Linked DNA regions of Homo sapiens. The protein of the gene in region 3 interacts with the protein of the main gene of each other region in a pairwise test. Each region holds a gene or a part of one and is shown on either strand. Other genes may lie near its edges.

What was found.
Region 1: the proteins of FAM124A (region 3) and FOXP2 interact in binary tests that used the Homo sapiens proteins (3 or more experiments, as listed by UniProt).
Region 2: the proteins of FAM124A (region 3) and ROCK1 interact in binary tests that used the Homo sapiens proteins (3 or more experiments, as listed by UniProt).
Region 4: the proteins of FAM124A (region 3) and ZNF250 interact in binary tests that used the Homo sapiens proteins (3 or more experiments, as listed by UniProt).

The regions. Positions count from the first base shown.
Region 1 is NC_000007.14:114,627,617-114,635,335, reverse strand, and holds part of FOXP2 (forkhead box protein P2), read right to left. Parts: intron 6,797-7,719; coding exon 6,659-6,796; intron 5,745-6,658; coding exon of another isoform or gene 5,694-5,744; intron 5,532-5,693; coding exon 5,331-5,531; intron 3,809-5,330; coding exon 3,631-3,808; intron 1-3,630. UniProt on the Homo sapiens protein: Transcriptional repressor that may play a role in the specification and differentiation of lung epithelium. May also play a role in developing neural, gastrointestinal and cardiovascular tissues.
Region 2 is NC_000018.10:21,101,603-21,109,321, forward strand, and holds part of ROCK1 (rho-associated protein kinase 1), read right to left. Parts: intron 1-7,719. UniProt on the Homo sapiens protein: Protein kinase which is a key regulator of the actin cytoskeleton and cell polarity.
Region 3 is NC_000013.11:51,216,933-51,225,537, reverse strand, and holds the start of FAM124A (protein FAM124A), read right to left. Parts: upstream 3,141-8,605; 5' UTR 3,037-3,140; coding exon 2,969-3,036; intron 1-2,968.
Region 4 is NC_000008.11:144,883,889-144,891,607, forward strand, and holds part of ZNF250 (zinc finger protein 250), read right to left. Parts: intron 6,516-7,719; 5' UTR 6,462-6,515; coding exon 6,420-6,461; intron 6,187-6,419; coding exon of another isoform or gene 6,172-6,186; coding exon 6,045-6,171; intron 5,807-6,044; coding exon 5,693-5,806; intron 3,015-5,692; coding exon 2,952-3,014; intron 1-2,951. UniProt on the Homo sapiens protein: May be involved in transcriptional regulation.

The DNA.
Region 1 (7,719 bases), on a different chromosome or scaffold from region 3:
TACAATTACATACAATAGTAATCTATGCAATCACAAGATCATTGATTAAGCAGTAAATCCAGGATGCCAGAAGTAGGCATTTGGCTACTTAGACTTCCATAAGCATAGAATGAAGCCAAAGCCAAACAGCTAATTTTGGCTGAATATTGCGCCCAAAGACTATCTTCGGCACAATTCTAACTTAGCCTAAAAACATTATATTTTATTTCAAATATTTCATTTTTAATTATTATTCAACCACTCTTATTCTGAGAATCTCTAGTTCTATAATGTGTTAATTCAGAAGAATCCAGGCTAGAATCTAGCATTCTCTGTTTGGTCTCTCAAATTGGAAAGGAAAATCTTGTCTTCTAAATAACTTTTATAAATTAAAAAATATGTAAAAACTTGGAGTGACAGAAAATCATCACCACATGTATTCCTATCCATATAGTCATAGTAAATGTGTGAATATATTGTGGATTAGAGTACACAAACGTTTATCGGATGTCACAAACATATCAATGTTTAAAGTTAACTTCATCTTTCCTAACCAATAGACAATTATCCTGGTTCATTAAAATGTTTCACTAAATTTCATTACTAGATAATATATAAACTATGTTATTCATATATTACATAGATTTATAATCAGTATATTATTCAAGATGGAACTATAAATCCATCCTTTCTATTTGACATATGTATGTATATACCTATATACCTATACTTATGTATATATCTATCATCTGTCTGTATACAAACCAAACATATACTTAGGAGATGGAAGTTTACTTGCCTAACTAAAATCCAATATTATAGTAATATTAATGATGACCTTAAATGATTAATATTTAAAATAATTTACACTAAGATGATAAATATAAAACTTTAGAGAGGAATGTAGATAAATCTGCTATTCTACCAAAATTCTTATAATTTTATTATTTCTCATTGTTATATACATATATTTTAATATAATTTAAGAAGCTGTAACTCTAAAAGTAGCATGAAGAAGTTGTGTTAAATTATAGGGACAAATAAAATATGACATAGTTTTAGGTCGAGCACAGTGGCTAATGCCTGTAATCCTAGCACTTTGGGAGGCCGAGGCAGGCGGATCACTTGAGGTCAGGGGTTAGAGACCAGCCTGGTCAACATGGTGAAACCCTGTCTCTACTAATAATATGAAAATTAGCCAGGCGTGGTGGTGGGCACCTGTAATTGCAGCTACTCGGAAAGCTGAGGGAGGAGAATTGCTTGAACCCGGGAAGGCGGAGGTTGCAGTGAACTAAGTTAGCGTCACTGCACTCTAGTGTGGGTGACAGAGTGAGACTCCTCAAAAAAAAAAGAAAAGATACAGTTTTAAAGACACAATGAGAACATCATCCATCATTGCACATTAATCCTACTTGGTTTTTATATGGCTATTTTTCAAGGCTAATCAACCAATCAAAAACCTGGTAAAAAGTGAACTGGAAACTGATAATAAAAATATTCAAAATACTTTTACCTTAACCTCTAACTAAGGAAGAAATGATTCAGGGCTTACACTGTACAACAAATATTTCTTTACTTTTTCCCCACTCTAGTTTTGGGATTCCAGCATAGTACCGTAACGCTAGGTTCCTTTACTGTAGCTGGTGTATTCAACACACAATGAGCCTCCACAATGATATTTTTCACACTTAATCATCTAAATCGTAAAAAACAAGACAATGATGCCGGTTTGTGTGGCTTACATGGCAACAACACAAACTTTGATCGGTGAACCAACTACATTTGTGGCCCTACAATTATTCAGATGGATTTTTTTAACCTATATTAATGAAAACATAGTTGAGTGATTTCATCTTTTTTCCTTTTTAAAATATAAATTTTCTGCTCAAAGACAGATGTTTTCAGATTTACTTTCCTTTCCCTAAATGTTCGCCATTTTCTCATTTTATCTCTCATATATCTTATCAAGGATAAAAACAGAAGAAAAGAGAGAAACAAGGATTCTATGAAAATAAATTTTAATTTGAATTCAGGTAATTTCTATTTGAAAACTATTAGAATGATTATATCATTATAAATTTCATTGTTCAGAGAGATGTTTTTTGCTTGTTTTGAAAGAATGTGGTTTCACAATATGTTTTAAACAAGTTACACTGTGTTTCTATTAGCACATATTTTAAACTTTCTTAAAATGTTTACTTGAATTAATAAAATAAGATTGTGGTAGATCATGCTTTTCTGTTGAGGAAATTCTCATATAATTATATCCTAAATACAGATTTCATTTGAACTTGACTGAAAACAAAAACAATATTTTTTCTGTTTTAGTATAGTTTCTATTGAAGAAATCCATGTTTACACTGAAATAATTTTATAAACTCTTTTCTTTTTTACTTTTTCATGTCTTTAAATTGTATTTATTTTTCTAAAGAAGAATAATTGTGAATAGAACATTCATTGATATAATGACGCTATGATTTATTCCAATTTTCTTTAGAATATTTATTCCAATATTCTTTAGAATAACTCAGAAAAACAGGCTTATTGCCTTGTTTTTCTTTTGCTATTTAAACTTTATCTTTTTTGATTTCCTAGGAGTGCTTCAATCAGGTGAATTAGAAGATTTGAAGTCAAGTGAGAGAGGAAAACCAGGGGGAAAAAAGCCAAAGAGACATTAATTTGATAAATAAAAAGAGAGAACATTACCACGATACTCCTGATTTTCTTTAGTATGTCCTTTAGAATCAGCAAAATGTGCAGCCAATGCTACTACAATATGAACTCCTCTGTGACAAATATAATTAATTTGAATTAATGTACATTTGGATTAATGTTTGTCCCAACAAAATCCAAATGCAAGTTAGAATATCCCTTTATGAAGTGTAATGATATATAACTTACCTGAATTGAGAATTTTAGCACACAGTCATTTGTTTACCATTATTTGTCTTTTATAATTTAAAACTTTCCATTTCCCAAAAGTGAAGGGTTATGAATATGACACACAATTGTATTATCAGAGTACCTCCAAATTTTTCTTACAGAAAAATAAGAATACAGTTGACAGATTTTTTAAAACTATAGTTTACAATACATGCATAGGCAATGTTATTTGAGAGAAAAAAGAATGGATATGTCCTGTGACATAGGATGGGGTTCTACAAAGCTTAACTTGGAATGTGCTCTATAGAAATTCATGAAGCCTCTCTTTAACATGTGGTGATTTCAGTGTGAAGATTAGGAACTTTTATCTTTCTTTTATCAGTTGTCCACCAAACTCCTATCAGCTCACTTAGTTAAATGGACTGCTGTCAGCCTTCCCGGTAATCCAATTCCCTGCAGATCCTCCTGTATATTCAATAGTGCTTGAATTGTGTTGCCCTTATAAATCATTTTGTGCCCATAAGACTAATAAATACACATTTAATATCTAACAAAAACTTGAAAGTTTTACTTCACACTTGAAAGCAGTATATGGTAAAATTTCTGAGCCTCTAGAAAATAGGTCATGCCACCATGTTAACAATCACGTTTTAATAATAAATTTGAAAGTCATAAAAACAAAATTTCTCAAGGTATAAGGCAGAAAGGCCATGAAATGGTAGAAAGTACAAGATTTGAAATGAAGAGTGCACAACATTTTGTATGTACCTTGAGGCAGCGATTGGACAGGAAGTGCTGCCTGGCCAGGTGGAATGGAGATGAGTCCCTGACGCTGAAGGCTGAGCAGATGCTGCTGCTGCTGGAGTTGTTGCATCTGGAGAAGCTGCTGCTGGAAGACAAGCTGCTGGGCTGCCAATTGCTGTTGCTGCTGCTGCTGCTGCTGCTGCTGGTATCAGAAAACCCAAACCAGTAAACAGCAGAGAACATGGTCTGTACAAACAGCTCTCTTACAGGGAAATGCACACTCCTTTCATTGCCTGAGTGGGTTTTTTGGTCATCCCATAGTCAAAGTTCAGGGGCAGAATGTGAGTAAGTTCTAGATTTTCAGTTGCCTTTCTTTCAATTATTAAATCGTGTTAGAGAACCAAGGAACTTGCATCAAAAAAGTATGGAGCAAGGTCTAGAGATAGTATGTAATAAAGGTTCAGCTTTTTAAAATCTACTTATTGTAGATAATAATACATTTCTCTAGATTAAAAGAACACTACTTTACAGAAATAGTCAACTTCTACGACACACTTTTTTTTTTTTTCCAATTGAATAAGTTTGATCTGCAGAGGTCCATGAATGTGGTCTCTGGTGATCTATTAGTAAACTGGGATGTAGCCTTCATAGGATAGGCCTGTTAGCTCTCTCTCTCTTCTCCTCTCTTGTTGGAATATATTAAAGGCAGAATTACGTTCAAGGCAAAATTAAAAAAAAGTGCCCTTATTATAAGAAAAAGTATAACTTCCAATTTTGTGAGGCATTACAAGACAAACCAGAGGTCTTTGGACTCCAGAGGGTATGAGATGGCAGTCACACTTCAGAGAAAGACAAGCTGCTGTGGAAGACCTTTCCTTTTTAGTTTGGGGAAAAGAGAAACTTCTGATGCGCTCACTGGAAAACAGACTGCATAATGGAGCAAGTCATGTGGATTGCCCAAAGCCTCGGGAGAAATAAGGGAGCAATTTCTATTCTGTAGTTGATGGCTGTCTGAAATTCTATTCACAAATCCAAACAGAAACAAAGCCTCAGGAGGTCAAAACTGTTTCCTGTACGTTTGCATAATGGGCAGCTTGAAGACAACGGCTCTGATACCTGCTGATCAATTTAACTACTTCAACATGTTTTGTTTGTATTATGTTTATATTTGATGCAGTTTGCTGACAAGTGCAAGCTAGGCCTGAGAAGCCCGCTTGTCAGTTTGATTTATGAGCATATCAAACTGTAACTTTCTACTCGCCACTCTCAACCTACAGTAGCAGTTCATTAATCAGGGGCCTGTGACTTTGAAATCTGTGCTCAACCAGTTTCTCCCTTAGTCTCCCTATCCCCAACAATAGGCCAAATTTGCATGCATGTTCTCTGAGCTGCACCACTGAGAAAAATAAGGTTCCCTCACCAACTTAGATTCTCCATGAATACAAGATAATCAGTACTTTGTCCACCACACAGCTTGCTCTTTGTACTGTGATTCATTAGTGAACATTAGACGACAGCAGCATTAGATTGTAACTCTCAAGTCCCATGCTACAAAAAAGGAGAGCCTGAGAGCCTATCACTGTTACTAAGCTCAGTAAAAATATATAATACTGCAACTTTGACAGCAAGAGCCTTGTTATAGGAAGATCTAAGACTATTCTTGCCGCTCAAAGCCCCTTCTTAACTGCAAACTGTTATGTATCAATGAGATAACCGGATCCTACCTCTTTCGCTTGCTTTCCAGGATGCTGTTGCTGCTGCTGCTGCTGTTGCTGCTGCTGCTGCTGTTGTTGCTGCTGTTGTTGTTGTTGTTGCTGCTGCTGTTGTTGCTGCTGTTGTTGCTGCTGCTGCTGTTGCTGCTGCTGCTGCAAAAGCTGAAGATGTAACTGCTCTTGCTGTTTCTTGTAAAACTCTTGTAGTTGTTGCTGAATAAACCATTTTGACTTTAATAAATAAAGGCAAAAGTTTCACGTATTATAAATCTCCTAAACTCTTCTAGACTGGCATATGGCAGAGTATCCATTAAGATTCATCCCATAAAAACAACAAAAAATATACATTGGATTCAAAGAGACAGCTCTACATACATTTTTTTCCAAGGCAGCTCTGAAATTTTCCAATCCAGAATCCAAAAAATCCTAAACAAAAGGGTATAGAAAGTCTGTATTCTAAAGGGTCAGAGCCAAATTAATACTTTAAATTATTACATCTGAAGTCCTACTGACACATAAAAACTAGGCTATACTCTACCAGTTGTAAGAATAAAAATTTAGCTACATAAAATCAGGTTGCTCAATTCTTATTGGAAAAAACTTAATCCATCAGATGTTCAGAACAATGTCAGATTTACAAGTAATTGGTCTGTAGTCATCAGCACAGAAGTTAGCAAAGTAATTATATATAAAAAATTTCAGGTAAAGCACATTATTTTCTCTCTAATAAGTAAGTGTATAATATAAAGTCTATATACACTCAGGGTTCCGATATGGTATTTATTAGGAACACTATGTTTGTTATTTTAAAAAGATAAATTTCATAAATTTGTGGCTCAGCTGCCTAATTTCATTATAATAAATAGATTCTTCTCTTTCTAAACGATGAGTATACTATGAAAAGGAAAATCTGGGATGTTACTTTCTCCATTTTAACAAAGTGGTCTATTCAAATTTCATACTTTTGTGAACTAAAAGGAATGCTAAGGTGTTAGGAGTTTTAAAAGCAACTATTATCTGGTAAGTATTTTTGCATTTTTTTGGCAAGTCAACAAATTGAATGTACCTAAGCATTTGAATATTTAAATATTGGCTCATTCCATTTTCAAATTACACCTCTCTCTGCTCTTATTCTAGACTTTAATAATTTTTTTAAAAAAATAAGCAATCTAGATTTTCTTACGAGTTCTATAATTAAAATGTTACATTTATGTTCTAGCACGCTAATAGGTTGTCCTTTCAAATGGAGACTGAATTGTCAAATATGCCCACTGCACTTTCAAAATAAGTGCACACCTTCTAAGTCATGCTAGAACACCAAAGCAGGTAACCCACATTACCTGCTGCAGCATGACAGCCTGCTGTTGTTGGAGAAGGGCTTGTAGCTGCTGAGGAGACAGGACTTGTTGCTGAAGGATCTGCTGCATTTGCTGAGGGGTGATCACCTGGGGAGTCATCATGGCCACTGACACAGGCACCTTGCACAGAAAGAGAAAGAGAAAGAAAATTCGTGGTCATAACCAAATATCTGTTAATCAACTTCACAAATAGTATGTTATCTTTTATAAATTCTTTAGCATTGATGATCAATAATTTTTACGTCACATTTTACTATAACTTCTTTACAATAGTACTAAAGTATCACAAAACATAGACACTAGCTTTCCAGAGGCATCAGATTTCATCAAACTCTTTATGTTCCATAGCTCTTATTTAACATGCTTAGATATTTGAATTTCGGCTATAATATCTATAGTTAAAAATAAACAACCACATGGTGGTGTTCTCAATATTTCATAATTGATCATCTCATCAATGTCACTGTGCTATAAATACAAAGGTTTTTGAAATGTCTTAAGTGTAATTAAAATAAATATTAAAGATTAAAAAATTGGAAATATGCATATAAATGTTATCTAAACTAGTAAAAAGCATGTATACAGTATACTTACTTAAAAATATAATCATCATCTTCAAAATTTTATATACACATGATAAAGTACTAGAAAATAAATATAGTAATAAAATTTAGCATATGACAACATGTGATAATTCATATAGGAGATATATATATATATGTGTGTGTGTGTCTGTGTGTATATCCAGAAAAATAATGACATACATAGGTCTTCTGAAAGAAGAACTCATATAACTAGTATTCTAGCTTCTTCTTTAAACCTTTTCTTATTTCAAGCAACTGAGCTTATAATAGGAAGTACAAAAATTTAGCAATTACTCAAAGGTTATTCATTAAACTGAAAATAATAAAAGTAATTTACTTAAAACTTTTTTCCCACTACTTCCTTTTTCTTCAGGGTTCTGAGGATGAGAGGCAAAAAGAAGATAGGGAAGGAGAAAAAGATATAAAGGAGAAAGAAGGAAGGAAGTAAGGAAAACGTAG
Region 2 (7,719 bases), on a different chromosome or scaffold from region 3:
CTAGTTCCTTCAACATGCAGGGGAAGGGGAGTTGGAGAAGTTGGGGGAATGAGATTTCTCTATATTAAGAGACTTAAAAGACTCTTAAAGGACCTAACCAAAGAAAAGCAACATTTGGACTTTGGATCCAGATTCTAATAAAGCAACTGTAAAATAGACACTGTTTTAGACAATCAGAAATATGAATATAAACTGGGAATTAATGATACCAAAGCACTTTTAATTTTGCTAGGCATGATAATGGCCATTATGATTATGTAAGAAAATGTCCTTTTTTTTTTTCAAAGATGCTTATTGAAGTATGTAAGGATGAAATGACAATATATGGAATTTACTTTAAAATATTTTGGTAAGAAAAAGGGTGATTAATGAAATCAAATGTGATGACATTTTGAAAACTGCAAAATCTGAGTAACAGGAGTTCACTATCCTATTTTCCCTACTTCTGCGTATATTTGAAATTTTTATCATAAAATTACCAAACAGAATGAAAATTCACATTCTTTCCACTGTAACTACAGTTTTCAAACTTGAGTGTGTCTAAGAATCCACATCTCATGCAAATCCTAAGAATCATCCCAAAAAATTGTGATTTTGTTTGTCTACGCAAGATCCCAGATTCCATTTTTAACAAGTGCCTCAAGTGAATCTGATACAATCTACAGCCTCATATCTGAAAACTATACACTTAATTGCTTTACTACAAGTAAACCAAACCTTAAAGGAAAGTCATGATCATATCTCTTACCTGCCCTTCACCATACCCCACTCCTATCTTAGTGTGATAGACATTTAATTAATCCTTTTCCTGACACTATAAATTCCATGAAAGTGGGACATGTTTGTTTTTACTCACCATGGTGTTCCATTGCATAGCAGAATTCCTAGCACACAGTACACACCAAATAAACATTTGTCAAATGAATGAATGAATAACAGAAAAGAGAAAAAGGAAAGTTAATTGCAGTCCACTGTTTCAAAATTAGTTTGAGGGCTGGGTGCTGTGGCTCACGCCTGTAATCCTTACACTTTGGGAAGCTGAGGCCAATGGCTCACTTGAGACCAGCCTGGGCAACATGGCAAAACCCCATCTCTACCAAAAAAAATACAAAAATTAGCCAGGCATGGTGGCGCTTGCCTGTAGTCCCAGTTACTCAAGAGGCTGAGGCAGAAGAATGGCTTCAGCTCGGGAAGTGGAGGCTTCAGTGAGCTGAGATCATGCCACCACACTTCAGCCTGGGTGACAGGGCCAGACCCTGTCTCAAAAAAAAAAAAAGTAGTTCAAGACAACAATCTGAGAAAATTTTCAATTTCTTGCCAAAAATCTGGTATCAGAAGTATGGATCAATTAAGAGGGGCACAGGTTGGCCTACCCTTAATATAACACAAGTATAAGATAAACTCTCACCTCCCTGAGATATCAGACTTTGGACGTTAATTTGAACATCTACCTTCCTATTAATTGTTTAGGAACTGTAATAAAAATACACTCTATATTTCATAATCCCAAACAGAGAGGGCAAGTATACTAGAGAAGAAAATCATATCTTTACATTTTAATAGATATACAAATAAAAAATTACACTTCCTATGTTCAGAAAGTACAAACCCCTACAATTATGAACGTAAGTCACAAATTCAAAAAATAATGGCAAATATAACTATTGAAATTAATTTAGGAACTAGTTCCAAAAAAAGCACTTACTAAAGATGGTTGACAGTCTTACATTTCTACCCCAACATCATTTAACTGTTTAAGTTTTATTTCTTAAATAATAAATCAAAGACAATTTTTTGAAGTTTTAATTGAAGTGTAATAAACAAAGTCTCATAGATTTTGTTTAATAAATTTTATTTTATTATTTTTTTTTTTTGAGACAGAGTCTCACTTTGACAACCAGGCTAGAGTGCCGTGGCACCAACATGGCTCACTGCAGCCTCAATCTCCTGGGCTCAAGCGATCTTCCTACCTCAACCTCCCAAGTAGCTGAGACTACACCCAGGTAATATTTTTATTTTTTTTGTAGAGCCGAGGTCCCTCTCTGTTGCCCAGGCCGGTCTCAAACTCCTGGGCTCAAGGGATACTTGCACCTTGGCCTCCAAAAGTGCTGGGATTACAGACCACCATGCCAGGCCTATCATAGAATTTTCAGAGACACAAGAGACATCAGCAACTATCTGGTCCAACTCTTTGTTCTACAAATAGGGAAACTGAAGCCTAGATGAGAAAAATGATGTACTTCATTACACAGAGATTTAATAGCAAAACAAGACTATGCTCTGAATTTTCAGTCCAGTGTTCTTTTCACACCACACTAATGGCATATTTTTAAGAATACTTTCCATTGTGAATTGCAGTACTACCTGTTCATCTTCTTGAACACATGTGTGTCGTATCCAACAGCTATACTGTGGACTTAAACTAAATGGATATACCCCCTTTTTAGTGGGGATGAGGAATGGAGAAGTAGAGCTATTGGATTATCTTCAGCAATAGAACTCTATATATAATATTTCCTGATAAGTGGGTTTTTCTATCAATTATCGTAATAGAATCTGTAGTTTTCACCATATATCCATAACACCAAAACTTATAATCGTGAAGCAAAACTGGTGTAAAGTTATGCAAAGTCTAATCTAAAACTGAGAATTTACTCTTTATTCAACATAAAATTTTATATGTAGTTCCTTCTTCTGGATTAAAAACATTTCTGGGCAGGGTGCGGCGCTCATGCCTGTAATCCCAGCACTGTGGGAGGCTGAGGCGGGCGGATCACGAGGCCAGGAGATCGAGACCATCCTGGCTAACACGGTGAAACCCTGTCTCTACTAAAAATACAAAAAATTAGCCGGGTGCGGTGGCGGGCGCCTGTAGTCCCAGCTACTCAGGAGGCTGAGGCAGGAGAATGGCGTGAACCCAGGAGGTGGAGCTTGCAGTAAGCCAAGATAGCGCCACGGCACTTCGGACTGGGCGGAAAAAAAACATTTCTGACTCAAAAGATTAATGAATTAACCAATTCATATCTCAGCCGTTACTCTGAGCCACGTCTCTACACACCCACAGGGTGCCTGTAGTGCAAGAGGGCCTATTTACAGAACACACACTGAAAGTATAAAAGATACACACAGAAAGAGAACAAGATAACAACTCAATCTCCATAAATTAGTTCCCAATTGCCTTTTATATCCAACTAAACCCTTGGCACAAAGTATATACCATATTATAAATCACAACTAAACAAATAAACAGTCTCTAAAAGATCTTCCCCATTTATTGAATCTATTAATAAATGTCTCAATTTTCAGTTACAATTGGCTTAGACGTCAATAACGCACAGCTAGATTATGAATTTATGAGCGGCTTGAGGTGCCAGATAAATTACTCTGTACTTAGAGACGACAATAAATATCAACTTCTAGACTAAGCACACTGACTAGTATATAACAGAAATATTATAAATATGACAATATTACAAATGCTTACTAAATACCAAATGCTATGATAGTTGCTTTGACTATATTATTCAATTCTTACAACAATCTAGTACTTTTATCCCCTCTTATTTTTCTGAAGATGAAACAGCATTGAGAGGTTAAAATAACTCCCTAAAATATTTCAGCAAATACATGTCAGAGCCTAGATTTCAATCCAAGTTTAGGCCCTATACAAAGATTTGCTGAATGAATAAAAATGAATTAGGAGAGTAACTTGTTTTTTTAAAAGAAGTTCCTGCAACATACTAACATCCAAAAAAGTCTGGTCCAAACTAACCAGATATGCAATTGATACTAATAACACCTATTAACTCACAAACTAGGAACACTGGCAGAGATACAACTTTAAGGCTCAAAGATTTAATGACCTCAGGTCTTTTCATTCCAAGAGTAATATACCCCCAAAACAGATCAATTCAACTGGCAAGGCATACAGGGGATTAGACAGCAATAATCCAGATTCGAAAATGCTACCCAAAATCTGCTGTAATAACCCAATGTGTGGACTAACACTGTCAAAAAAGTTCACAACAAAAATTTCAGTTTAGCGACAGGGACAATAGTGGAATTAATGACAAAACAGATAAGTTTATGGGAGGAAGCTTGTTTTGGAATATGAGGGATTTGAGACTAACATGACATCCAAGTAGAAATGCTTACAAGGCAGTCAGATATTTAAGGTTTGAAACAAAAGACTAAAAATAAAGATTTGGGTATCATGTACATAGAGATAATAATAATTGAAGCTGTAAGAATGGATGAATTCTTCAAGAGAGTGAAGACAAAGATAAGTATGATAGGCCAAAGATTGAGGAAAAGAAAAAAAGAAGAATGAAAAGATGGGAAAGCACTAGGTCAAGAGAGCCCAGGAAGATAATTTAAAGGAAGAAAAACTCAAAGACTAACACCAGAAATTTCATTTACATTTATCTTCCACATTCTGAAAAACTCCCTAATAAGAAATAGTAGTGACAAACAGCACAGTGTTAGAACTCAACAGGCACTATTTGACTAATACTGGTTCCCTTCTGTCTCCTCCGCTCACCCGTTGCTACACCTCCACCAGCCAGAAGAGAAGTGGAAAGGTCATGTTCTTAACAGGCATCATGAAGCGATGTGCCAATAAATATGCTACAAGCAAGATATTTTCATGAAAAGTATGTCAAACTTCAAAACAAATGTATCTATAACCCTCCCAACCATTTTTGTTTTTCCTTTTTTTTGAGACAAGTTCTCACTGTGTCGTCCAGGCTGGAGTGCAGTGGCACAATCTCGGCTCACTGCAACCTCCCCGTCCTAGGCTCAAGCAATTCTCTGGCCTCAGCCCTCCAGGAGCGAGCCACTGCACCCGGCCTTGTTTTTCCTATTTAATTTACAAATCATAAGCATTTTTTCCTCTGCAAAGATTAAATAGACTTAACTAAACTCCATCCCTTATTCTGTTTTCAAAGGTACTCAAAATCACTGAGAAATTATTACAGGCCCTAGACAAAATAATTAGAAGATAAGGAAGTCCGGAAAAGAGAAATAGCTCCCGATAATCCTTATAAACTGTAACATGGACAGTAAGAAAGACAACCATTAGGACACTGGAAAGAATCTGACCTACAGAAAACCAAAGTTGACTAATTTGAATGCTCTAGGAAACAAGTGAATGGTTATCATAATGTATCTTAGTATTTGCAGACTATTTTAGCATTTATACATGATATGAAGATTGAACTTACTTAGTTCTTGAAAAAAATTACAGGTGTTCGAGAAAAGATTGGATAGCCACTTATCAGAGTTCTTCCAGCTACATTATTCTAAACTACTGCAGGTTGAGTATCCCTTGTTTAAAATGCTTGGAACTAGAAGTGTTTCAGACTGCAGACTTTTTCAGATTTTAAAATATTTGCATATACATAAGATACCCTGGGGATGGGGACCAAGTCTAAATAAGAAATTCATTTACGTCTCATACATACCTTATACACAACAACCTGAAGGTTATTTTTTGCAATATTTTAATAATTTTGTGCATGAAACAAAGTTCTGACTGCATTTTGACTGCAACCCATCTCACAAGGTCAGGTGGATTTTCCACTTATGGCGTCATGTCAGCACTCAAAAAGTTTCAGATTTTGAGCACTTCAAATTTCAGATTACGGATGCTATTCATCATTAGTGTCTCAACAAAAAAGCTGTTTAGTAGGTAAGGTAGTTTAAAAGGACATACACCAGCAAATTTCTGAAACCAAAAGATTTGGAAGTTTCCATTTCTAAGCATGAATCTAGTAAAGGAGGTAGAGAAGAAACAATTTGAAAACCTTATTTTTGGGATTACAAAAACAACTCTAGAACTAAAGGACTGCACGTGGCACATAATACACACTAATAAGTAAGTATCAGTTACACAAATCAACAAAAGTCAAAATAACAGAAAAAGGCAACCAATGTAAAAGGAGTTTTGTTCCTATAATACATGAGAGGTCCAAAGTCCAGATAGGGAAGAACAAGAACAGACTCACTGAAAAAGCTGAAGTCACCTGATAGGTCACCCTGAATGACACAATGAATGAATGAACGAACGAATGCTCAATGTTAAACATAAAACATCATGCGAAGAAAATTCATGCTAGATACTACAAACCCAGAAAAAGGATTTTTTGTCTCTAAAGGAAATTCAGTCTTGGGCCAGGCACGGTGGCTCACGCCTGTAATCCCAGTACTTCGGGAGGCCAAGGCAGGCGGATTCCTTGGGGTAAGGAGTACAAGACCAGCCTGGCCAACATGGTGAAACCCCATCTCTACTAAAACTACAAAAATTAGCCAGGCGTGGTAGTGCACGCGTGTAATCCCAACTACTCGTGGGGGCTGAGGCAGGAGAATCACTCGAACCCAGGAGTCGGAGGTTGCAGTGAGCCAAGATCGCGCCACTGCACTCCAGCCTGGGCAACAGAGTGAGATTCCATCTCAGAAAAAAAAAAAGGAAAATTCAGTCTTTACCAAGTTCAGATTGACGGGGTAATAAAATTTCAGTAACAGCTATCAATAAACAGCTGTGGAACTAAACAGAAAAAGAGGACAAGATTATAAGATTTGAAGGGGAAAAAACAACCAAATCTGTCTGTTGACTATTCTCTTTAACAAAATGTTGTTTTAGAAGTGTTGGGCTCCATGATACCTGGCTGTCCTAACTCTGGAGGCCTTGATGGCTTACCTCCTCCACTCTTCCTCTTTGTTCAACCTTCATCTTTCACCCTCATTTTTCCCTCCATTGTTTCTCCCTTTACCATTATATCAACTTGCACCTTTGTGCAAATGACTTCTAAATCATTATCTGTAATTATGAGCTCAGTTCTGTATCTCCAACAGTCTACAGGTCATTTTCTCATGATTGCTCCACTATCCCCTCAAACACAACGAATCTAAAATTGAATTTATCTGTAGGCCTATTCTTCACAAGCAATTTCCAAACCTGACTTTGCTATTTTTACCATTCTCCCTATAATCCAGGCTCAACCTCTTTAGAGTCATCTGACTATTGCCTCTCTCTTTGGTTCCCCATCTTTTCCCTGCCAATAAAGTTCCATTAATTCTTCTTTTCTCATTCTCATGCCCCAATTTTGGGCTTCAATCATTTCTGGACTATTACAATAATAACAATTTTAAAAAACTGTCCAATCTCACTGTCTCTCCAATCTTTTCCCATGCTAACCCATCTTCCACACACCAGATTCATCTTCTTCATTCATCCTAGCACGGTCTTATTTATAAATATTTAATAGCCACAACAGTGTAAAGGCAATCCAAAATCCTTAGCCTACCAATCAAATCCTCCACAATCTAACGCTAATATTTCCTTCCAACCTTATCTTCCTTGTTTCCCCAAACATGTCATAGCCAGTCATGTCTCCACCCTCTATTCACGTTATCCTCCACTCCTCTTGAGTACCCTCTACCTAAATCCTATCCATCCATTATAAAACATACTTTGGCTCTCTCAACTCACAGTGACTTCTTTCTCTCAATTTCCAAGAACATACATTATCTAAACAATCATCTGGAATTTATCACATTTTCTCAATCTGTGAAGTGTTTAGCTTTGTTTCTGTGTATATATGTGAGACAAGGTTTTGTCTTCCATTAAATAGATTGGACTCTCAGGGAAAGAGTCATGACTTATATTTCCTTGTATCCTCCACATGTAAATAAAGGTCCCCACCAAATGAAGCTATAGCA
Region 3 (8,605 bases):
CTCAGGCTCCTTTATCAGCTCATTCTCATTGACTGGGCGTTTAAATATAGTTTCTCAAGGCTGGTCTTAAAAAGCACCTGCTGCACAGAGTTGTTGAAGGATTCGAGGAGTCCATGAAATACATAAAGGCTTAGAACAGTAGGTGGCACATACTAAATGCTAAGAAAGTGCTTGCTATTACCTTCAGTTGATTTAGTCTCTCCCAGAGCTTCCATTGCCATTTTTAGGTAAATAGTACCCAAATGCAATGTCATCATGAAGACCTCCCTTCTGAGTTCCAGACAGATATACCCAACTGCTGATTCATCATCTTTACTTGGATGTCTTGCAACACCTCAGACACAGTGTGTTGAAAATGAAATGTCTCATATCTTGCCCAAACTTGGTTTGGAATAGATCACCAGCTACTTTGAGAATCTGATAAAAAAAAAAAGTTCTCTTCTCATACAAATTCACAAAGCACATCATTTTGCATACAACTTGAAGGAATTCATGGACCCCAAATTAAGGATCACTGCCTTAGCAGATGTGTCACTTGAGCTGAGTCCTGAAAGAAGAGTAGAGTTTCACCTGGCAGACAGGCAAGTCAGGTGGGAAGGGCAGAGCTGGCAAAGAGGGCAGCTTGACAAAGGCGAGGAAACAGAAAAATACAAGGCGCAAAGAAGGACCTGCTGAGAAACAAGGCCAGGGAGGGAAGAAGGGACTCCATAACAGGAGTCAGGGCATATAGGCCACGTTAAATTCCTTGCATTTGTAGATAACAGAGCCATAAAAGTTTGAAAGGGAGAGACATGATCAGATTTGCATTTTAAAAATACTAACGATAGCAAACACTTGTTGTCTTCTATGTGCTTTCTACATAATCTCTGTGAAAGCTGGATAGGGTAAGGGGTGGGGGCAAGCTCTGGAAAAGCAGGGAAACGATGAACAGCTTTTTGATAACTGAAATTCAAGGGCTCTGTGAATATATGGCAAACACAAAACTAATTAGCATACATTGAAATGCATGCTATTTTACCTTTAGCTTAAGGATACTAGTGATACAGTAAGAATTCCTTTTTTTTTGGAGATGGAGTTTTGCTCTTGTTGCCCATGCTGGAGTGCAATGGCGTGATCTCAGCTCATGGCAACCTCCGCCTCCCGGGTTCAAGCGATTCTCCTGCCTCAGCCTCCCGAGTAGCTGGGATTACAGGCATGCGCCACCACACCTGGCTAATTCTGTATATTTTTTAGTAGGGATGAGGTTTCTCCATGTTGGCCAGGCTGGTCTCAAACTCCCGACCTCAGGTGATCCGCCCACCTCGGCCACCCAAAGTGCTGGGATTATAGGCGCGAGCTACCGCACCTGGCCAAGAATTCTTTAAACAATTCTGTCCTGTTACAACTACACATTTTAGTGACAGAGGCTGAGAACAGAAGCTCTGGTGTCAGCAGGAGTGGGGAGCCCCTCCCAGGAGGCCTGGCCGCTGTCATGCTGATGTCCAGATCCTGGGGCGATGTCACCCCCTGGGTCCAGGACTTCCTCTCCCTTCTCTAAGACAGAGCCCTTGAAAAAAATATCAGTTTTAGGTGAGTTCTGCAAATTGAAAATGAATAGACTAGTGAATGCTTTATTTAACGCAGTTACAAATAAGCTGGTTAATTTTGCTTTGTTTCTTCTATTCATGGTCCAGCTAACTAATGGCAGAAAAAAAAAGCCAATAATCTTGTTAAAGTTGATAAATGCCACTTACACAAAGAGTGGGAAGAAGAAAGGAAGTTTGGCATTTAGCATCAGGTTACTCCACCAGATTATAATTGGGTGCTGTAGAGAGCTATGAATAAGTTTGGATAACAGAGAAAGCCCATTGCTGGGTGAATGCCCTAGGGAGTAAAGTCCCGCATTTGGGCTAGGAGTGGTGGGGCAGGAGGGGCCCTGTGGGGAGCTTTGCCGGGGTTGGGTTAGAACTCTGGGTCGATCGTGGGCCTGGATTCTCTACCTGCCCTCACAGGGTTGCCAAATCCTGAGATTAGTCTAAAACCTCTCCGACCTTCCAGGAATGAGGCTTTCTGTAGTCTAGGCAGCTCCCGCCCTCCCCCAGGATTACTCCAGATAGGAAAAAACACCCTTTCCTCCTGGGTCAGTACCCGCGGCCTGGATGTGGTGCTGACTCTGCACAGGAAAGTCCTTTAGAGACAGAGGCTGCCTGGAAGCCTTTATAACGACATTCATCTCCTAAAAGGCATTTTGTCTTTTCTTCCGCTCAGGAAAACAGTGTTTGGAGACTAACTAATTAGTCTCCAAAGGTTTGAGCCCATTGTTTGAGTCCGCTGAAGCGAAGAGAATATTAAAAAAAAAAAAAGGCAGGGCTAGATCCTAATCCCAACACCATCTCCATCCCGCCGGTACAACAGGCCAAAGGGTCCAGCTGGGACAGGTGCACTTAGAGGTGAGGAAGTTCGGCGGGACTGGAGGAGTCGGGGAGGGGGACTCGGCAGCACAGATTAAAGTCCCACGATGAAGCCATATAACGAGAAATGCCATCCTCCTAGCCGACTTCGGAAAGACTTTTAGGTGCGGGTGTCCCACCCTGCTTTTCTTCCTCTCCCGATCTCCAGGGCCGGACTCCAGGGGGCTCCGGAGCTACAGGAGGAAAGTCCCCGAGGAAGGAGGAAACAAGTGCAAGAGCATCTCCTGTCTCTAGCGATGCAGACAAGGGGTCTTTGCATCCGCCTGGCGCTCTGCATCGCCTCACAGGATGGGTGGGCTTGCACTGAACCTTGAGTCCTTCCACTTTCCTCCCCCCGGGTGGTGCCCGCCCTGCCCAGGGCAGCGCGGCCCGCCCAGGAGAGAGCGGGGGATCCGGCAGGAGGAGAAGCCCCGCGCCCCGGTCCCGTCGCACGGATCAGGAGGGTCCCCGTCCGGGGAGGAGCCGCCGCGCAACTCGGAGAGCGCCCCCCGCCCGCGGCCCGGCCCGGCGCGGCTCACCCTCCGGTCTCGGCGCCCGAGTCCACGCAGTCGTCCTCCTCGCCGCCGCCGCCCGCCTTTGGGTCCATGGTGCACGTCCCGGCCGCGCTCGGCTTGCGGGCGCCGTCGTGACCCGGGGCGCCCTCCCTCCCGGCCGCCCAGTCCGAGCCGGCCGGGCTCCCTCCGAGCGTCTGGCGGCCCGGGAGCCGGCAAACAACTCAAGCGCCAGCCGCGAACCCCGCGCCGCGCCCTCTCCCGACCGCGCCCGGCTGGGCACCCGCGCCTGCGCCCGCGCCCGCCCCGCCCCTCGCCGTCCGGCGGGACCCGCGTGTGCGCGCGGCGGTGCGCGGGGAGTGCGCGTGCGAGCGCGTGTGCGAGCGCGTGGGGGGCGTGTGAGCGTGAGTGGCCGAGGTGTGTGGTCTCACACCCGTGCGTCTGTGCATGCGGTGTGATGTGGGTGCGGTGTGCACTCCTGGTTGCACGCGACTGTGGCTGTGCTGAGCGCGTGTGCCCGTCTGTGGTGCGTGACCGCGTGTGTGTTGTGGGGGCGGGGTAAGTGTGCACACGAGAGCCGCCTCTCTCCCCCAGGCCCACAGTCCGGGAATCCCGAGCCCCAGGGCTTGCCACGAGGTTCCCCACCTCCTGATCTGGGAGGAGCACTGAGAAAACCAACCTCAGCGCATCGTGAAAGCTGGGAAGGATTTGTTTCCCTTTTGGGACCAATTCGAACACCTGGGTGTTTTCTTATAGTTTCTGAAGAATTGCTGACGCCAAATTCATTATCACCTTTCTCAGTACACGTCTGAGCGGCATCCCACCCCCTCAACTTGCCAGTTTACAATAGGTGTCATGCATTCTTTTGCTACTTAAAAAAAAAAAAGCCTTTAAAAATAATTTAAAGAGCATTGAATGAACCTGCAATTCACGGGTTGTTGCAGCAAGGGGATAACCTTAGGGTGAGTTAATGATCGCTATTGGAGGGGCTCACCTCCTATTAGGAGGGTGAAGAGGGAGGCAAGTTGGCAGGGCGGGCGGAAGGAGACTTCGAACAACTTGAATTTAGTTCTGACAGCCCTATCCAAACCATTGGGAGGAATTGTCCTTACTGAGCCTAAAATTTCTTGCACCCCAAACAGCAATGGACATATTGGTGGGCATTAGCTGAAAGAAAGGAGCGTGCCAGTTCTTCAAGGGAGATTCCCCTGCCCATTTTTTATCTTGCAGCCAGGAGGGAACCTGCCTTTATTTACTCTGTGTGGGAACAATTCAAACTGTGCCTCATTTGATCCTCAGGGAAGTGCTGTGAAACAGGCTTACTTTTCTATTTTACCGTCAAGGAAACTAAACCCTACCGAGTTCGAGTGCCTGGTCCCAGGACACCCTATCAGTGAGCAGGGAAGCCAGGTAGTCCACTTAAGGTAGCTGGAGCCTGTGCCACTTACCTAGAAGGCTGATGAGTGGGCCAGTTGTATCCTCAGGAAGATGGTACTAAGGAAAAGGCCAGGGAAGAAAGGGTGAAATCAGCATGACTTTTAGAAGATGGGCTTTGGAAAATGAGATGCTATTTAAATGATTTCTGCCTTTCTCAAATATCCAGAGAAAGGGCATGCCAGACCAAAACCTCAAGCCACATCTCAAAATGATGCATGGATTCAGGTTCCCCTCGCCCACAGGGGACACAGTGTTATCATTCATCATTGGCATAGCAGTCTAATGGCAACTCAGTGATGCATTTATTATATGGAAGAGAAGCTTGAACGGTATCACTGTATTCTAGTGATGCATGGCTTTCTGCTTCAGTTCCCAGGTTTTAAAAGCCTCACTTCATTTTTTGCTTGTTTGTTTGAGACAGGGTCTTACTCTGTTGCCCAGGCTAGAGTACAGTGGCACAATCACAGCTCACTACAGCCTCCACCTCCCTGATTCAAGTGATCCTCCCAGCCTCCTGAGTAGCTGGGACTACAGGCGTGCCACCATGCCCAGCTGAGTTTTAATTTTTTTGTAGAGAAAAATATGTTGCCTAGGCTGGTCTCGAACTCCTGGCCTCAAGTGATCCTCCTGCCTCGGCCTCTCAAAGTGCTGGGACTATAGGCATGAGGCATTGCACCTGGCCCATTTTTTGGGAGGGCGGGGTATAAGAGTTGCTGGCAGGTAACCAGCACAAGAACCTTCAAGTGATCACTGCAGGGTATCTAGCCCCTAAACTTACATGGTTCCCACACTCCATAGTCCAGCTGTTTAATGTCAGTCTCTTTAATCATGGGGGTACGATGCTCTCCTCCACCCCTTTAAGATGGGGACAGAAAAGTGTCACTGGTCTGCTTAGGGTGTCTTGACTGCTGCCCTAAAGATATTCCTATCAGAGCCTGAGAACAGTGTTGGGGGAATACTGAGGTATGGCAGGAAGTGTAACAGGCTAGGAAACATGAAACCTGACTTCTGGATCGGAATCCATCATGTACTAGTTCTTTAAACTCTCGATAGAGAAAAAGGATAGACCATCAACTGTTTCCAAAGTTCTTACTACATGTCAGTCTTTGTGGTAAGGATTTTACATACATGATTTATTTAAATCTCACAAAATTCTTGTGAGGCTTCCTTTGTCCTTAAAATGGGGTTGTTGATATAAATCTCACAGGAGATTCAAAGCCCCTTAGAAACTACGAAGCATATGAATAAAAGATATTGCTGATTTTTTAATCACTTTTTCTCAGAAAGGTCTGAACATCAATCTTTTGTTGTATTTCACCTATAAAGCATGTTTCAGTCTCTGTTTATATTATTGCATGTGTTGGTGTGTTAGAAAACAAGGCAGTTCATTCATTTATTTATTGAACACTCAGTGTGTACTAGGCAGGGGCTGGTGCTGGGGATATGTTGAGGAATAGGCCAGAGCTATTTTCTGGCCTAATGGAGCTTTTTGGGTCAAGAGAAGGCAAGGCCAATGGGCATGGCTGGCCTTCCCACCAGGCACCTGAGAGGTATGTAGTGCCATCAGCCATTAGAATAGGACTGGAATGCCAAAGCCCTGTCTTGGAGGAAAAAACTTAAGATAATCGGATGGTAAATAGAGTCCATCAACTTTGCTGATGAAAGAGATGGATTAGTAATTAAGAAGGCCAAGAGTAATTGGGAGGGGGCCAAAAAAAGAGGAGCTAAGTAGCTTTAAGATAAGAACTTTACAGCAAGAGACTGAAAACAGATAAAAATAAATATCTCCAGAACATAGAATTTGCCCAGATTTGGATTTCAGTTTAGAGGGAAGCTAGGCCACTTTCATTGCATCTGTACCATTTGCTATTAGGCGAGCTTGATTTAGTCCCTTAAGTAAAATATTTGTTAGGGTTATCCAGTAGCAAATAGAACCAGAAAATATATTGGTCTGGAAACTTTTGCTCATTCATTTTAATTAATTAATTACTTTTTGAAAACACATTTCCCAGAAACAAAAATTACAGGTTAAAGAATGACATTAAAATTAAAAAAAAAGAAATCTCTTTCTTCCAAGACTCCAGAAGAGTCTGTCTAATGTGAAAAATAAATATTATGATCATGAGAAGAAAATTTATAAACTATTGACAAATCTACTTAGACAAAGAAAGCCACTAGCCCTACATGCAAACATAAGGGGACCAGATGGCAAAGGGATAAATGAAATGAAAGATAAACTGTTGTGTTGGGAAATAATCTCATTAAAATATAAATGACTCCACTTTGATAAGGAAGAGCACAGATAGTGGTCCTGCCTTGGAGGCTTCCCAAGAATTCTCAGCCTGCAGTTTATACCCGGACGAGATCTGGAGTCCAAGTCAGACATCAGACCACCCACCCACTGTGACCCCCAACAACTGGTGGGTGGGTGGGCGTAAAATGAGATGGGAATGTGAAAGGCTGGCTTCCGGAAATGTGCTGTGGAAATTTAAGAATCAAAGGGAACCTTAGACTCAGGGCACTGCCCTCCAGTCCCCCGTGAATAGACACGCCTCCTGGGAACTGTGGCTAAGTCACCCATTTATGGTTCTACGAATAACCTAGGCTTGGAAAGCTTTGGCCTTCCGTCCACTTTCATCCTGACACTTTCCTTCAGGCACCTGGTCCTCCCCAGCTCCAACGGCCTGATAGTCAGCTTGGCCTGCCATTACAAAGTACCACAGACAGCATGGCTTCAACAATAGAAGTTGATTTCGTCACAGTTCTGGAGGCTGGAGGTAGAAGATCATGGTGTCAGCAGGATAGGTTTCTTTGGAGGCCTCTCCTTGGCTTGCAGACGGCTGCCTTCTTGCTGTATCTTTCTTCTATCTGTGTGCATCCTTGGGTCTCTTTGTGTGTCCATATTTCCTTTTCTTGTAAATTAAACAGTCAGATTAGATGAAGACCAACTCTAATGGCCTCTTTGTAACTGAATCACTTTCTTTCTTTCTTTCTTTCTTTCTTTCTTTCTTTCTTTCTTTCTTTCTTTCTTTCTTTCTTCTGTCTCTCTCTCTCTCTCTCTTTCTTTCTTTTTTTTTTTGAGATGGAGTCTCGCTCTGTCGCCAGGCTGGAGTGCAGTGGCACAATCTTGGCTCACTGCAACCTCCACCTTCCGGGTTCAAGCGATTCTTCTGCCTCAGGCTCCCGAGTAGCCGGGACTACAGGTGTGCACCACCACACACAGATAATTTTTGTATTTTTAGTAGAGACGGGGTTTCACCATGTTGGCCAGGATGGTCACGATCTCTTGACCTTGTGATCTGCCCACCTTGGTCTCCCAAAGTGCTGGGATTACAGGCATGAGCCACCACGCCCAGCCCTGAATCACTTCTTTAAAGACCCTGTCTCAAAATACAGTCGCATTCTGAGGTACTGGGGATTAGGATATTACCACATTAATTTTGGCGGACACAATTCGACTCATAACACTGCCTTTGAAGCCATATCATGTGGGAGGCAGGATCTTATCATGGGTAAGACTGAGTTTCTCTCCAGCCACAGTGCACAAGCCCAAGTCTTCCCTCTCCCTCTATCACCTGCTAGGCTTGTGAACTGGGGCAAGTTACTTAACCTCTCCGGGACTCAGTTGTTTGCATCGCAGGCATACTGAGGTCTTTATGAGGACTGAGATGTTATCACGCAGAGAGTACTGAGATAGTGCCTGGCACATAGGAAGTATTGGGTATTATCATTTTACTCTGTGGTCAGCTTCCATATCTGAATCTTTCTTCATGACCTCTTTCTGGTTCTGCATCTGACTGTCCCAGTGCTCTTGTCCCTGTCCACAGGAATGTCATGCATTCATGCACTCACTCTTCCAAATTATACTAACCCAACTATCCTGTTGGATCTGGTCCAAATAAGACAGAAATCCTGCCCTTGGACCCTGCCAATCATTAGTGGGAGATCCAAGCAAATAAATCTCAAACCTCAATACAATGTAACTAATGCTATGACAGTGGCATATGCAATTCAGTTCAGAAAGCTGTGCAATGGTGAAATGCCATCTCTACTAAAAATACAAAAATTAGCCGGGTGTGGTGGCAGACACCTGTAATTCCAGCTACTCAGGAGGCTGAGGCAAGGGAATTTTTCGAACCTGGAGGCGGAGGTTGAAGTGAGCTGAGATTACACCACTGCACTCCAGCCTAGGTGACAGAGCAAGACCCTGTCTCAAAAAAAAAAAAA
Region 4 (7,719 bases), on a different chromosome or scaffold from region 3:
TTTTTTTTTAGATGGAGTCTCTGTCACCCAAGCTGGAGTACAGTGGCTACTATCATAGCCCACTGCAGCCTCAAGCTGCTTGGGGCTCATATGATCCTCCCGCCTTTGCCTCCCAAAGTGCTGGGAGTACAGGCATGAGCCATTGTGCCTGGCTCTAAACATTATTATATTTTATTTTACTTAGTTATGCGTGTTTCTGAGCTTTCTATAGTTTCATGGAGCACAGTCTTCTGGAACTCGTTTTCCCGTCAGCATTATGTTTTTGAGATCCATCATGTTGTTGTACAGCAGTTAATCATTTTCACTGCAGTATATTCCATTAAGTTAAAATACCATAGTTTATTTATGTCTATTCTGTTTATGAACATAATTCTTTTTTTAGAGACGGAGTCTTACCCTGTCGCCCAGGCTGGAGTGCAATGGGACGAGCTCGGCTCACTGCAACCTCTGCCTCCCGGGTTGAAGTGATTCTCCTGCCTCAGCCTCCCCAGTGGCTGGGATTACAGGCACATGCCACCATGGCTGGCTAATTTTTTTGTATCTTCAGTAGAGACAGGGTTTCACCATGTTGGCCAGGATGGCCTCAAACTCCTGACTTCGTGATCTACCCACCTCGGCCTCCCAAAGTGCTGGGATTACAGGCAGGAGCCACGGCGCCCGGTCCTGAATTCTTTTCAAATGTTTTTTTAAATCATGAAGCATGCTTCTGTGAAGATTCTCCTATGTTTCCTGGTGCTTACACACAAATGTCCTTGCTGTATACATATGCAAGAGTGGGAAGTGGTGAACATAGGAATTCATGTTTTCGATTTTTTTTTTCATTTTTTTTACCTCCATTCTCTCAGAATGTGATCATGTTTTCAATTTCATTGGATAATGCCAAACTTTTCCAAAGTGGCTATGTGAATTTACATCCCTATTAGCTGCCCTGCATCCTCACCCACATGTTATATTGTCAGATCTTTCCATTTTTTCCATTCTGAAGGTGTAACATCATGTCACAGTGGTTTTGATTTCCACTTTACTGATGAATAATGAGGCTGAGCAGTTTTCTTATTTATTGGCCCTTTGGTTTTCCTAATCTATGCAGAAATTTGTGCCTACTTTTCTTTTTGGGTAATTCTGCGTCTTTTTATTCTATTCAGAGGAATTTATTAAGTGTATTGACAAATTGAAACAGTGAGAATTTAACAGTTTTTTTAATAAAAAAATTTAAATTCACTGTCTTCAGTTTAATACAATTTTTTTGAGACAGAGTTTCGTTCTTGTTGCCCAGGCTGGAGTGCAATGGCACGATCTCAGCTCACCGCAACCTCTGCCTCCCAGGTTCAAGCGATTCTCCTGCCTCAGCCTCCCAAGTAGCTGGGATTACAGGCATGTGCCACCATGCCCAGATAATTTTTTGTATTTTTAGTAGAGATGGGGTTTCACCATGTTGGCCAGCTTGGTTTCAAACTCCTGACCTCAGGTGGTCCATCTGCCTCGGCCTCCCAAAGTGCTGAGATTACAGGCATGAGCCACCACCCCCGGCCCAGTTTAATACAATTTTTAACATATCTCATTTTAGAAAGTCACTCTATGTGGGTTTTTTTTTGAGACAGGGTCTCACTCTATCACCCAGGCTGGAGTGCAGTGGTGTGATCATGGCTTACTGCAACCTCAACCTCCTGGGCTCAAGGAATCCTCCTGTCTCAGCCTCCATGTGGCTGGGATTACAGGAATGCACCATCATGTCTGGCTAATTTTTAATTTTATTTTGTAGTGTGGGGTCTCAGTATCTTGCCTAAGCTGGCTATGTGTTTTTTAAACTGATAGAAGTTTTAGTTCTTTCTTTTTTTAATGTATAAGCCTCATCTTCATGGAATAAAAGCCTATAGGCTAAAGAAATAGTTACTCATTTACACTGAAAAGTATTACTTCTATTGTCTGAAGTTTCACCCGGTGTGGTGGCTCATGTCTGTAATCCCAGCACTTCGGGAGGGCAAGGTGGGAGGATCACTTGAGGCCAGGAGTTTGAGACCAGCTTGCGCAACATGGTGAAACCCCGTCTCTACAAAAATTAGCTGGGCATGGTGGTGTACACCTGTGGTTATAGCTACTCTCGGGAAGCTGTTGTGGGAGGATTGCTTGAGTCCAGGAGGTTGAGACTGGTGAGCCGTGATTATGCCACTGCACTCCAGCCTGGGCAACAGAGTGAGAGCCTGTCTAAAAAAAAAAAAAAAAAGTTTCCTGAATGGGCGGCTTCTGACCTGATGCCAGGGTAACAAGATAGACAAGATGTCTTTAATAATAAAAACACAGGCCAGGCACAGTGGCTCATGCCGGTAATCCCAGCATGTTGGGAGGCTGAGGCAGGAGGATTGCTTGAGCCCAGGAGTTTGAGACCAGCTTGGGCAACACAGCAAGACTCTGTCTCTACACTGCACTCCAGCCTGAAAAAAAGAAAACACACACACACACTAAACTAACTGCATAAGAGACTACTCGCTCAATCATCCATGGCACGAAAGCATCATATGACTGCTTGTGAGACAGAATCAAGTTGCTGTGAAGGCCAAACTTGCCTGCACCTTGCATCCATACTGTGCAGAAGCTGGACTTCAGCCAAGAGTCACTTGCTTTTAGAATAATGGTTTTGGTTGTTAAGTATAAAGTAGGGAAGTATGTTTTAAGCATGACGGAACAAATAAAAGGAAACAAAATGATTTCACCGAAATAAATGTTTAATTATAAAAACCCAGTAATCTCTCTAGGCCTACTATGGCTCACAAGAAAAGGAAAAATGTTTTAAAAATTAAAAACACAAAAAGCCCCTCCCTGGTGTTTTGTAGCAATTGTGTGAGTTGTTTAACACGCTTCATAGCACCGAGTCGCCTCTACATTCTTGTAAAACATTAGTGTTAACACCTTCAGAGATTGTACTGAATTAAAAAGATCAGGCATACACTTACCCCATGGACAAGATAAACTGTCTTGTTGTGTACAGGCTGTAGTGTGGTCATATTTGAGGTTGTCTGGAAAAAAAACAGCGAGTTGAAGTGACAACAAAATACTCCCTTCAAGAGTGGAAAATCCTGGCCGGGCATGGTGGCTCACGTCTGTAATCCCAGCACTTTGGGAGGCCAAGGTGAGTGGATCACTTGAGGTCAGAAGTTTGAGACCAGCCTGGCCAACATATAGTGAAACCCCGTCTCTACTAAAAAATACAAAAATTAGCTGGACATGGTGGTGCATGCCTGTAGTCCCCACTACTAGGGAAGCTGAGGCAGGAGAATCGCTTGAACCCCGGAGACAAGAAGTTGCAGTGAGCCGAGATCACACTACTGCACTCCAGCCTGGGGGACAGAGTGAAACTCCGTCTCTCAAAAAAAAAAAAAAAAAAAAAAAAAAAAGAGTGGAAAATCCTTTCGTTGCTATTACAACATGTAATTTACTGAGTTACAAACAGCAGGGTCAGGGCTGGGCAGGTGCACACACTTATCCATCCTGAGGAACTGCCAGGACAAGACAAAGGCATATCTACTCCTCGCTTGCTCTGATGCTAGTGGCAGTGATCCAGGTTGTGGCAGGTGGCTTCTGTTTCTATGCACATCAGTAATCTAAAACTCAGTCCCATCGTCCTCTGTGGCCTGTGTTAGAGGTGAGGGGACCAGGTGCTTCCATGAAAAAACTTCTCATCTCCAACCAGCCATGCTCCCAGAGAATTTCACAGTCTCTGTGGTGTCAAATCAAAGGGCGCTCAAAGGCAGTTTAAGCTCTCCATCAGGCGAGTACATAGCTGGACACAAGGGAGCCCAGGACTGGTTTGGCAGTGGCAGCAAAATGCCCTCCTGTGTTTTCTTGTCTCCTACAGCTGCAGTCAGTAAGCAGAAGTTCTATGCAAGATTTCCAAGACATGATGATGTGTCTTCTTGTATAGTCACTGGAAAATTAAATTCCTCTAAGGCTGGCATGTACCTTGTTCCTCTGAGGATATCTGATTTTGCAGGCCAGTAAGAGGTAGACTGTAATACCTGGTGCCCTATCCACATAAAGCTACTTTAGAAATAAGGAGGAGCTTTCAAGGGGAAAACCACCACATCTGAAATGCTGAAGCTGATCAGCCAATGGAGGTGTTGCCCAAACTGTCCCTACTCTCCCCAAGTGGGGCACATTATGGCAGGACAGGCTGACTGAGGTTTTCCTAAGACTCAGACGTCACCTTACTGAAGTCAGAGGTTCTTTGCCTTAAGCAACCGCAAACATGAACTTCAGGGTTGGATCTATGCACCATCTTTCTTTTTATAATTTTCTCCATCTAAAGGTCTTGTACATCTTTTGTTAGATTAATTCTTGGATGCTTTATATTCCTGATGCTATTATAAATGTTATCTTTTAAAATATTACACCTTTGCTGGTTGCTGACAAATATAAATAAAACATTTCTGGCCAGGTGCAGTGGCTCATGCCTGTAATACCAGCACTTTGGGAGGCTGAGGCAGGTGGATCACTTCAGGTCAGGAGTTCGAGACTAGCCTGGCCAACATGGTGAAATCCTGTCTCTACTAAAAATACAAAAATTAGCTGGGTATAGGGGCATGGACCTGTAATCCCAGCTATTCGAGAAGCTGAGGCGTAAGAATTGCTTGAACCCAGACGGCGGAGCTTGCAGTGACCCGAGACTCATGCCACTGCATTCCAGCCTGGGCGACAGAGCAAGACTGTCTCAAAAAAAAAAAAAAAAAAAAAAAAATTGTATCCAGCAAAACTGGTAATTTCCCTTGTGAATTTTAATCAATCATTTTCCAGGTTGACAATCACATAAACTGCAAACAATGCTTTTTTCTTTCTAATTCTTATAGCTTTGGTTTTGCCTTATTTTTATTTTTATTTTTTTGAGACAGAGTCTCATGCTCTGTCCCCCAGGCTGGAGTGCAGTGGAGCGATCTCAGCTCACTGCAACCTCTGCCTCCCGGGTTCACGCCATGAATCTGGGAGTAGCTGGGACTACAGGCCTCAGCCTCCCGAGTAGCTGGGACTACAGGTGCATGCCACCATGCCCGGCTAATTTTTTGTATTTTTAGTAGAGACAGGGTTTCACCGTGTTAGCCAGGATGGTCTTGATCTCCTGACCTCGTGATCCACCCGCCTCAGTCTCCCAAAGTGCTGGTATTACAGGCTTGAGCCACCACGCCTGGCCGGTTTTGCCTTATTTTGTACATGGGATACCCAGTACAACATTATATGGACATGGGGATGGCGGGCTTCTTTGTCTTGTTCTGAGATGAAACAGTGTGCTTTCAGCACTTCACCTTAAGTGTCAGGTTGAGACACTTCCTTTCCACATTTAGGATGCTTTGTTATTTTCTAAATCATCAGGTAACTCTCAAAACCTGAATGTCCTATTAGGACCAAATCTGGCTAACCAGTCCCTCTGGTCAGGGACAGAATCACTGCAGCCATGCCCTAACTTCCTCTACATGGCTCTGCACATCAGCTTGTTGAAATTCACTGCTATGCTCACTTCCAGCCATGGGCTGCCACCTGATTCAGCAACCCCCAGTCTATAGACTCCTTTGCCAGATAAGGCCAGATAAGGTTTTACTCCAGGTGGAAGCCACTCCAGTGAGCGGCACAGTATGAACTAGGTCCACAGCTTTGCTCAGGACCTGTTTAGCCCTCAGTGAGGGAGGGGCCAGCTCTCCTCACTCACCTGAGTAGTCACTCCACAGGCCCTGGCTCTTCTTAGCCCCCTTCCTGTCCAGGACCCAGGGATCTTCCCCTCGCTCCAGCTGGGAGATTATGTCAGGCTTGGATCCTGGAAGTCCTGCTCGTGGGGAGGGAAGTCTTTGTTTACACAACATTTACAGAGCCCCCTCCCCCTGCCCAAGCCACTTGTGGGGACATGAAAATGGACAGGACTGATCTTCTGCTGGAGCTGAGCACCCAGAGAGGTGATGAGAGCAAACCTCCAGGACCAGCCTGTCCCAGGCCCCGTACCCTGAGAAGCCCCCACCCCAGTCCAATACGCAGATACATAGACGAGGCCTGCTAAGGTGGCTTACCCAATGAGACTACATTCCCATAGGTTTCCATCATCACATTTCTGTAGAGACCCCTCTGAGCAGGGCACAGGCGGTCCCATTCATCCTGGGAGAGGAGCACAGCCACATCCTCGAAGGTCAGCTTGGCCTGGAACGACAGGGGCTGCTGCAGGTAAAACCAAATCCTGATGTCTGTGATGGGGAGTGGGTGCATGTGACATGTGACATGAGCAGTTGGCAGTGGGGGGCTCTGTGAGCTGAGGTGGGTGATGGGAAGGGGCCGCGGAGTTCAGGGCATGTGGTGACGCTCTGGCTGCTCTTAGGAGCTCTACGGGGCACGGAAGGAACCACAGGGCTCGGGCTGGGGGCACTGCATAAGCACTGGGGACAGCTTACCTGGGGTCCTGCCGGCACTGGCAGGAGTCTGGCTGCTGCCATCACCTGGTCTCCTGGGGACTCCGAGGATCACGGAAATTGAAGGAGCCTATGGGGCTGAGGAAGAGGAGGGGGCAAGTGAGGGGCATGGCCTTGAGACCGTAACTTCCTAGGGGGCCCTCAGGGGATCCCTGGGCCTCATTCAGAGTCACTGAGGGGCACACTGAGGTCAGGTGCAAGGAGCTGCTACTGTTGCAGCCTTGGTCTGCCTTGCCTCCCCCATGAACTCTGACCCTATGGTTCAGGAGCCTGTCCAGGCCCTGAACACACAGTTCCTGGGCCTGCCCAGCTAGTACTGGGCTCTCTGAACACCAGGTGCAAGGCACTTGCTGCACCCTGGTCCCGGCCCATGGTCCTGCCATACACAAGGATACCAGCTCACCAAGGCTCTGTGTGTTCTATACCTGAGGCCCTCACACAAGTACCAGACTGTCCGCAAGTCATGTGGGGGATACAGGCATCAGGCCAAGCTGCTTCCCCAAACACCCTCCCAATTAAGAAAGCCTTGGCCACCAGGGTGACAATAAGACTCCCCTCACCCCACCCTTAGGCAGCCCTAGTGCCCCAATGTGGCACCAGGTTCAACCAGGTATTTGAAGGGGAGGCATGGAAGTGGTCAGTTCTGGACAAACTGAGTCAACAGTGGCCTAGGGATCTGGTCTGAGCAGCTGAAGGAAGACTTGTCATCAAGTGAGAAGGGGATGCTTGGGGTAGTGGGGCTGGTGCTGGAACGTAACAGGACAAGGTAAGCAAAGGTATCTGACACACACCCAAACAGCTGGGAAAAAGGGGGAGCGGGGCAAGAGCTTTCCTGACACATTTGGTCCTGTACAGGATAGGGTTCGCAGTCTTCTGGAGCATCAAAAAGAAGATACTGTGACAGGGATACAGAAACCAACCAGGTGACCAAAGGTGGTAGATCACTCCAGAAAAACGTGGTATAACAAAGCAACCAATCCCCTCACATGCTTGGCTCAGATGGGCACCACAACAAACAGGGTGCTTTAAGAGTGACAAAATAGGTGTCAGGGCTGGGGGCAGAAGTCAAGGGACATCATAATCTCAGTGTCTATAAAACATCAGATATAGGTGGGCGCGGTGGCTCATACCTGTAATCTCAGCACTTTGGGAGGGTGAGGCAGGCACATCACCGGAGGTCAGGAGTTTGAGACCAGCCTGGCCAACATGGTGAAACCCCGTCTCTACTAAAAATACAAAAATCAGGCCGGGTGCAGTGGCTTATGCCTGTAATCCCAGCACT